2 linked regions of the Homo sapiens genome follow. The protein of the gene in region 1 binds, or shares a complex with, the protein of each later gene. Each region holds a gene or a part of one and is shown on either strand. Other genes may lie near its edges. The genes, in order: SPTLC3 and SPTSSA.

Region 1 (3,632 bases):
ACCTGCCCAAGGTAATGCCTGGCCCCACACCTCTACTGATAGCTTGCATCTGGCATCCTTGTCATTTTGACTTGACCCTAAAGGACCATCTCAGTTGCCCAGTTTCCATGGAATTGGCTGAGGCCTTTGCTATGATAACATCATAGTTCAAATTCTTCCTCTTTCCAATCCTGTTCCTTTACTCTTACGTTTGTATTGTACCATTGTAGGTGGTCTCAGTGGTGTGCTAGTAAATGTTTAACAGACAGCTCTCTAGAGCCCTGACTTGTAGTGTCTGCCAATTTCCATGGTGTAAATACTCCCATTGTGGCCAATTTCAAGCTACCAATCTGATGTCACTGAATGAGGAATTAGAAAGAAATGTGCACAATTAGTTCTTATCACAGTGCAAGCCAGCTCCAGCCACCCCTACCAATTTTCCCAGTGGAATTCCTAAATACAAATCTCTACCTCAGTCTTTTTTCAGGGTAACCTAAACTAAATCAACAGAAAACCATCAATTATTTTCATATTATTTTTATTTATTTTAAAACTAACATTTTACAGGCACAATAAAGTGAAATTGGTCGTTTCAAATGTTTCAGTGAAACATACATTTCTCTCTGTCCTTCTCACACACACAAAGACACATGCACACACACACACACACACATGCACACCCCACGTACATCAGGACACCATAAGACAATGTCCCGCAATAATTACCTAAAAATATTTAAAATACAGACTCTTTAATTTTCTAAACATTATGCAGCTGAGTAGGGCATTCTAAAGAACAGACTTCAAATTGTTCTTACTGTTTTGAGACCAGGAAACATTGCCAAGAATTCACCAGATGCTGTTCTTAATTGCTGTTGTTACAATTGTTATTATTGCTATAAATCAAAATGTATATTTAAGAGTTAATGTTTCATCATCATCGGAACTTAGGTTTTTAAATCAGAGTAGGCCATTTATAACATTTGCTATCTCTGAAGAAAAATACAAAAGAATATTGTTCGTTTGAAGAACTGTTAAGACTTTTACCCTACTGAAGAGCTGTTGTTGGAATAAATAATCAGAGGTTGAAGGTTGTTTTTTAAAGAGCAGGAAAAGAAAACAGAAGAAAGATACTACATTCAGGCCGGGCACGGTGGCTCACGCCTGTAATCCCAGCACTTTGGGAGGCCGAGGTGGGAGGATCACCTAAGGTCAGGAGTTCGAGACCAGCCTGACCAACAGGGAAAAACCTTGTCTCTACTAAAAATAGAAAATTAGCCATGCTTGGTGGCACATGCCTGTAAACTCAGCTCCTCAGGAGGCTGAGGCAGGAGAATCGCTTGAACCCGGGAGGTGGAGGTTGCAATGAGCCGAGATCTTGCCATTGCACTATAGCCTGGGCAACAAGAAGAACAAAACTCTGTCTCAAAAAAAAAAAAAAAAAGAAAGAAAGAAAAGAAAGATACCACATTCAAAGCAAATGGGCATCTTATAGGGAATGATACAGAAAACTGAAGAAGGCATAATTTTACCCAAATGAATCGCAGATGGTTCTTCAATATTGGATCAATTTTTGTAGAAAGAGAAGTTACTTGGAAAATGGGAACAAAATGTCCCAATGAGAAGAGAAGGTTGACTGTGGAATAAATTAATTTTACCAGTATATATACACTTAATTATGAACAAGAGAATCAGAACAAGGTTCCTGCTATTAGAGTCAATTGGTTTATCAAATTAGAGTTTGAATAATGTTCTTAAATTTTGGCATAGATTAGAATCACGCAGGAAGGCTGGTTAAAAATGTAGATTCCTGGGCACTACAACTATTATGTTTCAGTAAAGGTCTGGTGTAGGGCCTAGGGGTATGGATTTTAGCCAGCTTCCTAGTAAATTCCAAAGCCTGTCGTCTCTGTAAAATCAAAGCATGCTGAAAGGCAATATGGTTAAACGTCCATGACACCATCGTTTCATAATGAGATTAGGAATAAGTCTATGCCATTTCCTTATTATACAGAGATAGCCTCCTTACAAATATCATCTGGAACCTTTATCTTCTGCTTTCCTGAGGTCATTTTCAAGAACATCTTCCATTTATTTCTCAACCAACCAGATTTTCATAGTTGCTTACTCCGTAAAGGAAAAATGCATATGTGTATGTGTGTGTGCATGTGTGTAAATGTGAACAGAAGGGCTGAGTGCGCATAACATTATAGAAAATTCTCTTTTCCAACAGATCTAACCAAAGACACATTTTTGGCTCTGATATAATTAGAGCTAAGGTCGGGGCGGTGATGTAGAGGGTAATGGTTGATGATATAATTATCAAGACTCAATAATCAAATAATTTTAATCATGAATTAAAATCATGAATTAAAATCATGAACTTATTAGCCTAGCATTTGAGAGCTTTTTCTTAAAAAAATTAAAAATCTCATTATTCACAATCACCCTCCTAATTAACCTTATTCTATATGACATATACTCTAATATTATTGGCCCTGTGGAGCTTGGGCACCTTCTAATGCACTGTGGAAGCATTCTACTTGGATTATACCTGTATATCAACAGTTGTTCTCATACCTGTATATTCAACATGGACTCTCTAACAGAAACAGGTCCTTTTGTTTTGTACATTGCAGTGTAATAAATTGCCCCTGTACTCTTGAATCTTGATGAAAAGAGACTAACTTCCTCCCTGCCTTCCATGCTGGGTAGGTAAGTAGTTTCCCACAATGAATTAGACCCAATATCCTCCATGAAAGTAATAATAGTGGACATTCCTGCTCATGAAGACACATGTCTAGGGGCTTAAAACTTGAAGTGTAGATGTGAAGGTGTGTGTAAACATCACAGACAGATCCAGAAAGAAAGGAAGATGTTTATTGCTTTCCATACCTTGTGGAAGGACTAGATATCTCGCTGTCTTTTTGACCTCCTGTTTCCTTTATAGAACGCAAGGCATTTATGCATTTTGGACAATTCATTTAAATGCACATATTCAAGATAAGAACAGTATGTCTCCCTTTCTTTGCATATTTATGACACATTTTATTTGCACAAATAATACTGCATCAGTTTCATTGAGAAAAGTTGGAATTTTGTTATCAAAATCATTGGATGGGAAACTGCATTTTCAGAACCCACTTCTTTTCCTCTTTCACTAACGGTATTCCTTACAACTTGTAAACATTCATGAAGAACTCTATCATTGTGATCCATTTTTAAACCAATGCACCCACTTGGAGTTATAATTTCCCCATAAAAACTTTCCATGCTGATCACTTTTTTTCCTTTAATACGCTTTGAGCATCAGGGCACACTGCTCCATCCATCGCAGGCGCTGCGGGTGGAGTTTCTATCTCAGTGCACAGCATGAAAGCTTGGGTCCATCTGTGCCACACAAAACCAAGCCTCTCTTGAAGTGATTTGTTTACAGTGTCATTTGATGGAGTGGAATGTTCTGCAACTCATTCGAACTGTTACAGAAGCTTTGCTAAAAGGTCACCACTGCTCTCTAGAATTTCCAAATCTGGGCACCCTCTGGGAGCTTGTTAAAGATAAGGTTCTCCATGGGCTTTTTCCATACAAACTAGATCAGATTAACAAGAGGCTACTTTTCCATAGAGGTTTGTGTTCATGTTGAGAAGGAGAGC
Region 2 (7,533 bases), on another chromosome or scaffold:
CTCTCCAGTACTGCCTCCTAACCAAAACCATGTGCCACTGGGCTTTGCCCCCTTCATCCACCTGTCTCCTGAGTTTTCCTCTATGCTCACTGAAGACTTTGACATTTGCTTTACAGACTTTTCCTCTCGACACTTAGTTCTGCCATCATCCTGGACAACTTTATCTTTCCTGTGGTCTTTACTATCCCCTCCACTCCACTTTAGCTGCCTATCCCATGGTCACAACCTGTGCCTGGTCATTGTCTAAGACTGGCCTATTTCTGTACTCCTAAGCTTCAGAAGCACAGCCGTGGCCCTCCTCCTCCAACATAGACTCTTTCCCATGCACCTACTCCTACAGTTTCCAACCTCACACAGCTCTGGACTACTCCATTTTATCTTTTCATCATTTACTTCCCTCCGTGACCTAATTCTCCTAGTCATTATTTCAATTATTCTCTCTCCATCAACCTTCTTGCTTGTTTCTCCATTGTATCCATCCAGCAAACCCTGCCTTGGAGGAAGTCTCCTAATTCAACTTCTCTAGTTCTATATATACTCGGTACTTGTGTATTGTTGGTAAAAACTGTATGGTTTTTCTGCCTGACAATCCTTAGGCAGCTTTAGGAAACTTCTCCCATCTCCCTTTTTCTTTTTCATACCCTCCACTCTTCAACATCTTGCTCACTCTCAACAAGAGGCCTTTATTTTTTCACTAAGAAAACTGATGTTGTAAGGTAGGGAGTTCCTTAACTTACTTGTCTGTGTTTATGTCCATCTGGCTCCCATCTTTCCATCCTCCTCCTCTTGGGGAAAGAGCTACCAGTTCCTGTTTATTAAGGCTTTGGATCTGGTCCCCCAGCCCACCATCTTTATCCATATCTTTACTCTAAGCCCATAAACTTGCTTACTCCTTTCCCATCTGAAAATGAAACCAAACTGAAACCCTTGCCACCATTCTATCTCCTTCCCTTCACAGGCAAGCTTCCTGCAAAACTAAGCCTGAATTAACTGTCCTCATTGTTTTACTTCCTGTTCTCTCCTCAGCCTTCTATAATCCGGCTTCTGTCCTATCATCATTCCACAATGAAATGCTGAGTCATCAATCTAGCCCCATGTGGACAAAACAAATTGGCGCTTCCCTTCCTTATTTTGCTTATCCTCCCTGAGCCATTTGTTCTGCTGGCTATCCCTTCCTCCATTAGCTTCTCCTGTATGTCTCTCCTCATTGCTGTCAAATCTCAGGTAGCTCCTTCCCTGTATTGGCTTCCTTTGGACTCTCATTGGCCAAATGCCAGAATCTCTGGGTTTATTCTGTACCCTGCTCTTCCCATTCTATGTGCTTTCCTTGGGTGACCTCATCTGCTCTTCTGGCTTCAATGACCAGGGACATATTGAAAATTCATATGCCTCTAGTTCCATTCAGGCTTCACTTCTGAGTTCCAAACCATGTGCTCAATTGTCCCCTGGACACCTCCATTTAAGTGTCCCTCAGGTACCTCAGACATAGCTTCATCCTAACAAAATCAATATCTTTTCAGCCAAACGTCTTCCTTCGGTTTCTTTGTATTGTCATCATCCAGGATCTCAGCCTCTTTTCCTCATTTCTAGTCAGTCACCAACTTTAGTGAGATGAGGTGGTAGAGCTGGTCTCCGAGAGACACGCAGTGGATTGGGAGCTACTAACAGTGAGGACAACCACCTGGCAGACATGGTGCTAGGGAGTGGACCCAGTAAAGGAAGGGTGGCTACGGGTGATGCTTCCAATCTTGGATGAATTTTATGTAGCATCACCAGATGCTGAGGGTAGTTGGAGTTCTCGAGGAAAAAGGAATGAGCTTGCCTGTGCCTGAACAGGAACAGGGACAGAAAGAAGTCCAAAACAGTTAAGTTTGAAAGTAGGAGGGCACGTGTACCTGCATCTCTGAGGGGTAAGGAGGTTTCAAGTATTTGTGGGTTCTACCTTTGTAATGTCTTCCCAACCTGTTTTTTCCCTCGGTAGCCTCCAGGCTACTACCCACACCCAAGTCTTGTTCCGAAAGCATTTTTTTTTTTTAAACGGAGTCTTGCTCTTGTTGCCCAGGCTGGAGTGCAATGGTGTGATCTCAGCTCACTACGACCTCCGCCTCCCGGGTTCAAGCGATTCTCCTGCCTCAGCCTCCCAAATAGTTGGGATTACAGGCACCCACCATCACGCCCGGCTAATTTTTTATATTTTTAGTAGAGACGGGGTTTCACCATGTTGGCCAGGCTGGTCTGGAACTCCTGACCTCATGTGATCCACCCGCCTTGGACTCCCAAAGTGCTGGGATTATAGGTGTGAGCCACCACACCCAGCCCTGAAAGAAAATCTTATTTAAGTTGTTGGCTCCAGTAACTTTTGGACATCAAGTTAAAAATTTCTTAGCTTCTCAAACAAGGTCCTTCAGAATATGGTCCCTGTTTGCTGTCTAGGCCCATCTCTTGCTACTGCATATACATTCTTTTTGCTCCAGCCACATGGAAGTTCTTCCAGTCTTCTAAAAACATCACAACTTCATCCTTAGAATGTCTGTCTCACCCTCTCTTCCCCAAGCTCATTCATTCTTCCATTTCTGCTTGTCCTTCAACACTCAGTTCAAGCACCATTTCTCAGAAGACTTTCACAAGCCCAATCTGATTTTGTCTGGGCTATCTTGGTATCCTAAAGGATACGATCCACAAAAATATCATTTACCACACCTCACTGTAATCCATTAACTTGCCTCTCTTCCCCAGCAGACTGGGTACTTTATGAAGGCAGGTCTCAGTCTATCTGGCTTGCTATCCCAATGTCTGGCACTTGATATTACTTACTGTTTTCTTTCTTTTCTTCTCTTCTCTTCTGTTTTCTCCTCTCTTTCTCTGTCTCCTTTCTTTCCTTTCTTTTGCTCTGCCACCTAAGATGGAGTGCAGTGGCACCATCCTGGCTCACTGCAACCTCGACCTCCCGTGCTCGAGCAATCCTCCCGCCTCAACCTCCTGAGTAGCTGGGACTACAGGTGCACGCCACCACCCCTGGCTAACTTTTTGTTATGTATTTACTTATTTTTTTTGGTAGAGACGGGGTTTCACCATGTTGCTCAGGCTGGTCTCGACCTTCTGGACTCAAGTGATCCGCCAGCCTCAGCCTCCCAAAGTGCTTGGATTACAGGCATGAGCTACGGCGCTTGGCCGGCACTTGGTACTTTTAATGAATAGTTATTAACCATGAAACTTTTAAAGTTTAAGCAGTAGTATGTTTAACCTGGAAGACTTTTAACATTTAAACAGCAGGCCATTTAATTGTGGCAGTTCACATGCTACACCAGTGCATGGAGCTCCTTGTGGCCAGTGCAATGTTGCTGGCCCATCTGGCAGTGGGAAAATCTGGGCATCCAGGAGTGCATCTCTAGGGAAGTATCACCAGCCCTCACACCAATCTCAAGCTGCCTGTCTTCTGCAGAACCCACTAGATCAGCGCGCTTCTGGCCTTGACCCACTTGGTGGTTACCTACAGCCACTAAGAGGTGGGCAGATAGATGTTTTTGGTAAGTGGTCTCTGGGTTAGGGAGTGCATGGGTTATGTCCGTCTAGGGGTGTGTGTGTGTGTGTGTGTGTGTGTGTGTGTGTGTGTGTGTGTGTGCATGGGTGGGGGAAGGGAGGAAGGAGGCCGAATGTGCATCCCTTCTACAAGGACGCCTTTCCAGACCTCCTTATTAGGTGGCGTTCGCCTCCTCACCCTCTCTCAGCCCCTTATCTCCTCTTACACGGATCACGACTTGATTAATGCTTGTCTCCCAGCTAGGCCGCCAGCTGCACAAGGTAAGGAACCGAAGGCATTCCGGTTCTCCCTGGCAATCCTCCTTCTCAGAAGGATGCCTGAGGCATAACAAGTGTTCCAGAAATATTTCTTCCGCAAGCGCTCTGGGCCAGTCTGGACGGACCGAGCGCCCGCTGGGCTGCGGGGGCCCCGGGACCCCGGCCGGCACTGACGCCCCGCCCACCACCGGCCGGCCCGGGCGGGGTGGGGCGCGGCTGGGCGCTCTCGCGGGGACCGTTCTCCGGCTAGCGTGGGCGATGCCCGGGCGGGGAAACGGGAGGGGACGACGCGACGCGAGGTAGCGGCCTGGCCAATGAGCGCGGGTCGGGCGGGGCTGGGGGCCGGCGGCCGGGGCGCGCGCGGGTCTGGGCGTGCCGCGGGTGACGGCGGGGCCGGGCGGGCCAATGGGCGCTGGGTGGCGGGCGGGCGGGCCTGGCGGCCGGGGGCTTTAGGACGTGAGCGGGCGGCCGGCCGGACAGACTGACGTGTGAGCTGCATCGCGGGAGGCGCATGGCGGGGATGGCGCTGGCGCGGGCCTGGAAGCAGATGTCCTGGTTCTACTACCAGTACCTGCTGGTCACGGCGCTCTACATGCTGGAGCCCTGGGAGCGGACGGTGTTCAGTATCCTGTCCCGGCCGCGCGCGCGGGGGCCGGGCTGGGGGCGCGGGCCGCGGGGCCGCATTTCCCCAGGCCCCGGGCCTGGGGTGGAGGCTGGAGCGGCGGCCCCGCCGGTCCTGTGCGCGGAAGCCGGGGGTGCAGGGGGAGGTCTGGGGGCCGAGGGCGGCGCTCGCGGGGTTAAGTGGGGGGTGGGGGAGACGAGAACTCTTGAGATCCGGGGTCACCTGTGAGTCGCTGGACCCAAGGGGGAAGCGTCTTGATTCCTGGAGGAAATCTCCGAAGGTGATGTGTAACCCTGTGTGTCGCCTGCACTTCGGCCGCAACTGCCTTTGGTTCAGTCCCCTGTTCCTGTAGGAGGCGGGGATCATGTAACAGTGGAGCACATCGCTCCCGGCTTGGACGCCTTTGACCTTTAAGTGTTCCTGATTTAGTTGGCTTTGGGTCTACCAAGAATTCTAGTCAGTTAACTAGCTTTTAAGCCAGGTTCTGAATTTGTAGGCATGACACTCCAGTAGTTTTTGAAAGCAGTTTAAGTTATTGTATCTTTTTGGTCTTCAAGTTGGGGAGTTTTAAAAGTGTATTTATTGCTTCTGTGCACCGTCCGTAGAAGTCGGCCCGAAAAGTGGTGCAATTTGTGGTTAGTTGTCGGTAGGGTTTGAAACTGTGTTTTGGTGGATAGTTAATAAATTCTTGTTAATGACTATTGAGTGGTTACTATAAGCAAAGCATTTGTGCAAAGCACGTTGTCTGTATCTTAACTCATCTAACTTTGAGAACTTCAGTTAATAACTCAGGGTTGTGAAGATAGGCTCCCTGAAAGTCTGATGTTTCTTGTCTCTGCTTGTCCATATTGACATCCTTTGATGATATTCTTGCAGATTAAATACTGATAATGAATGAGATGTAACTTTTAAAAAACTCAGGCCAATACAAAACAGGTATTTCACAAAACATGTTTAGTTTATCCACGTTCTCTCCTTTTCAGTGTGGTTTAGTTGGAGTAGCTTACTTCAGAATAACTTTGCGAATGCATTGTTGCATTCCAGTGAGTGACTGAGGTAATTTCATTCTAAGCCTTATCAAGTGTGTTTATTTGTTTTGAGATAGCTTAAGGTTGTACTCAAAGCTGAGTCTTTTGTTTAAGCACTTTTGAGGAATTTGAGATGCTTTCAAAGCAGTTTATTTATTTATTACTGTTGGCATTTCTTTCCAAACCTGGAATTTAAGAACCAGAATGCATATTTTGGATTTAGACTCTGAATATAGTTTGCTTTGATTTCCTGCACCATTTATTTGTAGCTGCAGTTTAGTCTCACTCTTTAGGGCTCGCAAGGTCATGCCTTGTAAAATATATACTTGAATGCATATTTAATAGAAGTCTCTCAGTAGAAGCAAGTATATCTTGACTGACATAACACATCCTAAAATTAATTTAAACAATGCTGGGTTAAAATGAAACTCTTTAAATCAGAGGTTGAATGTAGAGTGCACTATTAGAATCTAGTATAGATTTGACACCTAAAATCTAATATAGATTTTACACACTAAAATGCTACAGTTATCAATGATGTTAAGATTTTTCTGTTATGTTGCAATAGTGATAGTGTCCTATAAATAACTAGGTGATGCCTTTTTTGGGGGATGGAGAAATAAATTATGAAATGAAATATAGTGCCTTAGTAGATATTTGCCTTTAATGTTTTTGAGTTACCATGGTTTAGCGACAAGTAGTTTCAATTTTTTTTTCAAATAGGTGAGAACTGCAACCAACTGACATCCAATATTATAGAACCTTATGATTTTAAACTTAAGATAAAAAAATCTTATTTCAAATTTCACGTTATTGAATTAACTCAGGTTAGAAATGCAATTGTTTGACATAAGCCAGTCTTGAATTACTATCAGCTGTTGTATTTATATTTTTCCACTTCAACTTCTAGAATCATTTAAAACTATCTGATAGTTTGGAACATCAATTTGAGATTGAATCCTCATTTTAGCTTGGTGGAAAGAACTGAATGAGAAAACTGGATTTTTTTCCCTACTTGTCAGGAGGCTTACTCTGAAGTAGTTTGAATTTCATAAATCCATTAATGATTAGTAAGCTTCACCCAGAACTAATCTGTGGCCAGCTACAGGCTTTTGGAAAGAGGCATACTTTCTACAGCTTAAACATTACATTCAACTTAATCATCAATCCTAGAAACCTAAAATTTAGAGAAATTTGCCTCTGCCTGTCTGAAAATTTGTCTCTGAGTTAGAAGTCCTGAACAGAGGAAGACTTCAGATTGATTTCTTTTCTTTGTGTGTGTGTGTGTGAGACAGTGTTTTGTTCTTGTTGCCCGGCTGGAGTGTAATGTCGCCATCTTGGCTCACTGCAACCTCCGCCTCCCAGGTTCAAGCGATTCTCCTGCCTCAGCCTCCAGAATAGCCGGGATTACAGGTGCCTGCCACCACGCCTGGCTAATTTTTGTATTTTTAGTAGAGATGGGGTTTCGCCATGTTGGCCAGGCTGGTCTCGAACTCCTGACCTCAAGTGATCTGCCCACTGCAGCCTCCCAAAATGCTGGGATTACAGGCATGAGCTACCACGCCTGGCCAGATTAATTTTCTTCTTTTTCTTTTTCTTTTTTTTTTTTTGAGACGGTGTCTCGCTCTGTTGCCGAGGCTGGAGTGTGGTGGTGCAATCTTGGCTCACTGCAACTTTGCATCCCGGATTCAAGCGATTCTCCTGCCTCAGCCTTCTGAGGTAGCTGGGATTACAGGTGCCCACCACCACGCCCAGCTAATTTTTGTATTTTTAATAGAGGCGGAGTTGGGGGTGGGGTGGGGGTGGGGTGGTTTTACCATGTTGGCCAGTCTGGTCTCAAACTCCTGACCTCAAGTGATCCGCCTGCCTTGGCCTCCCAAAAGTGCTGGGATTACAGGTGTGAGCCACCGCGCCTGGCCCAGATTAATTTCTTAAAGAGGATAGATGCATTAGTTTACATTTCCTGCTATATAATGCATTTTTAAAAATTTGAAGTTGTGGGCCGAGTGTGGTGGTGGACGCCTGAAATCCCACTAGTCGGGAGGCTGAGGCAGGAGAATCGCTTGAACCCGGGAGGCGGAGGTT

What was found.
Region 2: SPTLC3 (region 1) and SPTSSA share a complex: the UniProt entries of both Homo sapiens proteins name them as parts of the serine palmitoyltransferase (SPT) complex.

The regions. Positions count from the first base shown.
Region 1 is NC_000020.11:13,165,972-13,169,603, reverse strand, and holds the end of SPTLC3 (serine palmitoyltransferase 3), read right to left. Parts: 3' UTR 501-3,632; downstream 1-500. UniProt on the Homo sapiens protein: Component of the serine palmitoyltransferase multisubunit enzyme (SPT) that catalyzes the initial and rate-limiting step in sphingolipid biosynthesis by condensing L-serine and activated acyl-CoA (most commonly palmitoyl-CoA) to form long-chain bases.
Region 2 is NC_000014.9:34,458,984-34,466,516, reverse strand, and holds the start of SPTSSA (serine palmitoyltransferase small subunit A), read left to right. Parts: upstream 1-4,276; 5' UTR 4,277-4,309; coding exon 4,310-4,421; intron 4,422-7,533. UniProt on the Homo sapiens protein: Component of the serine palmitoyltransferase multisubunit enzyme (SPT) that catalyzes the initial and rate-limiting step in sphingolipid biosynthesis by condensing L-serine and activated acyl-CoA (most commonly palmitoyl-CoA) to form long-chain bases.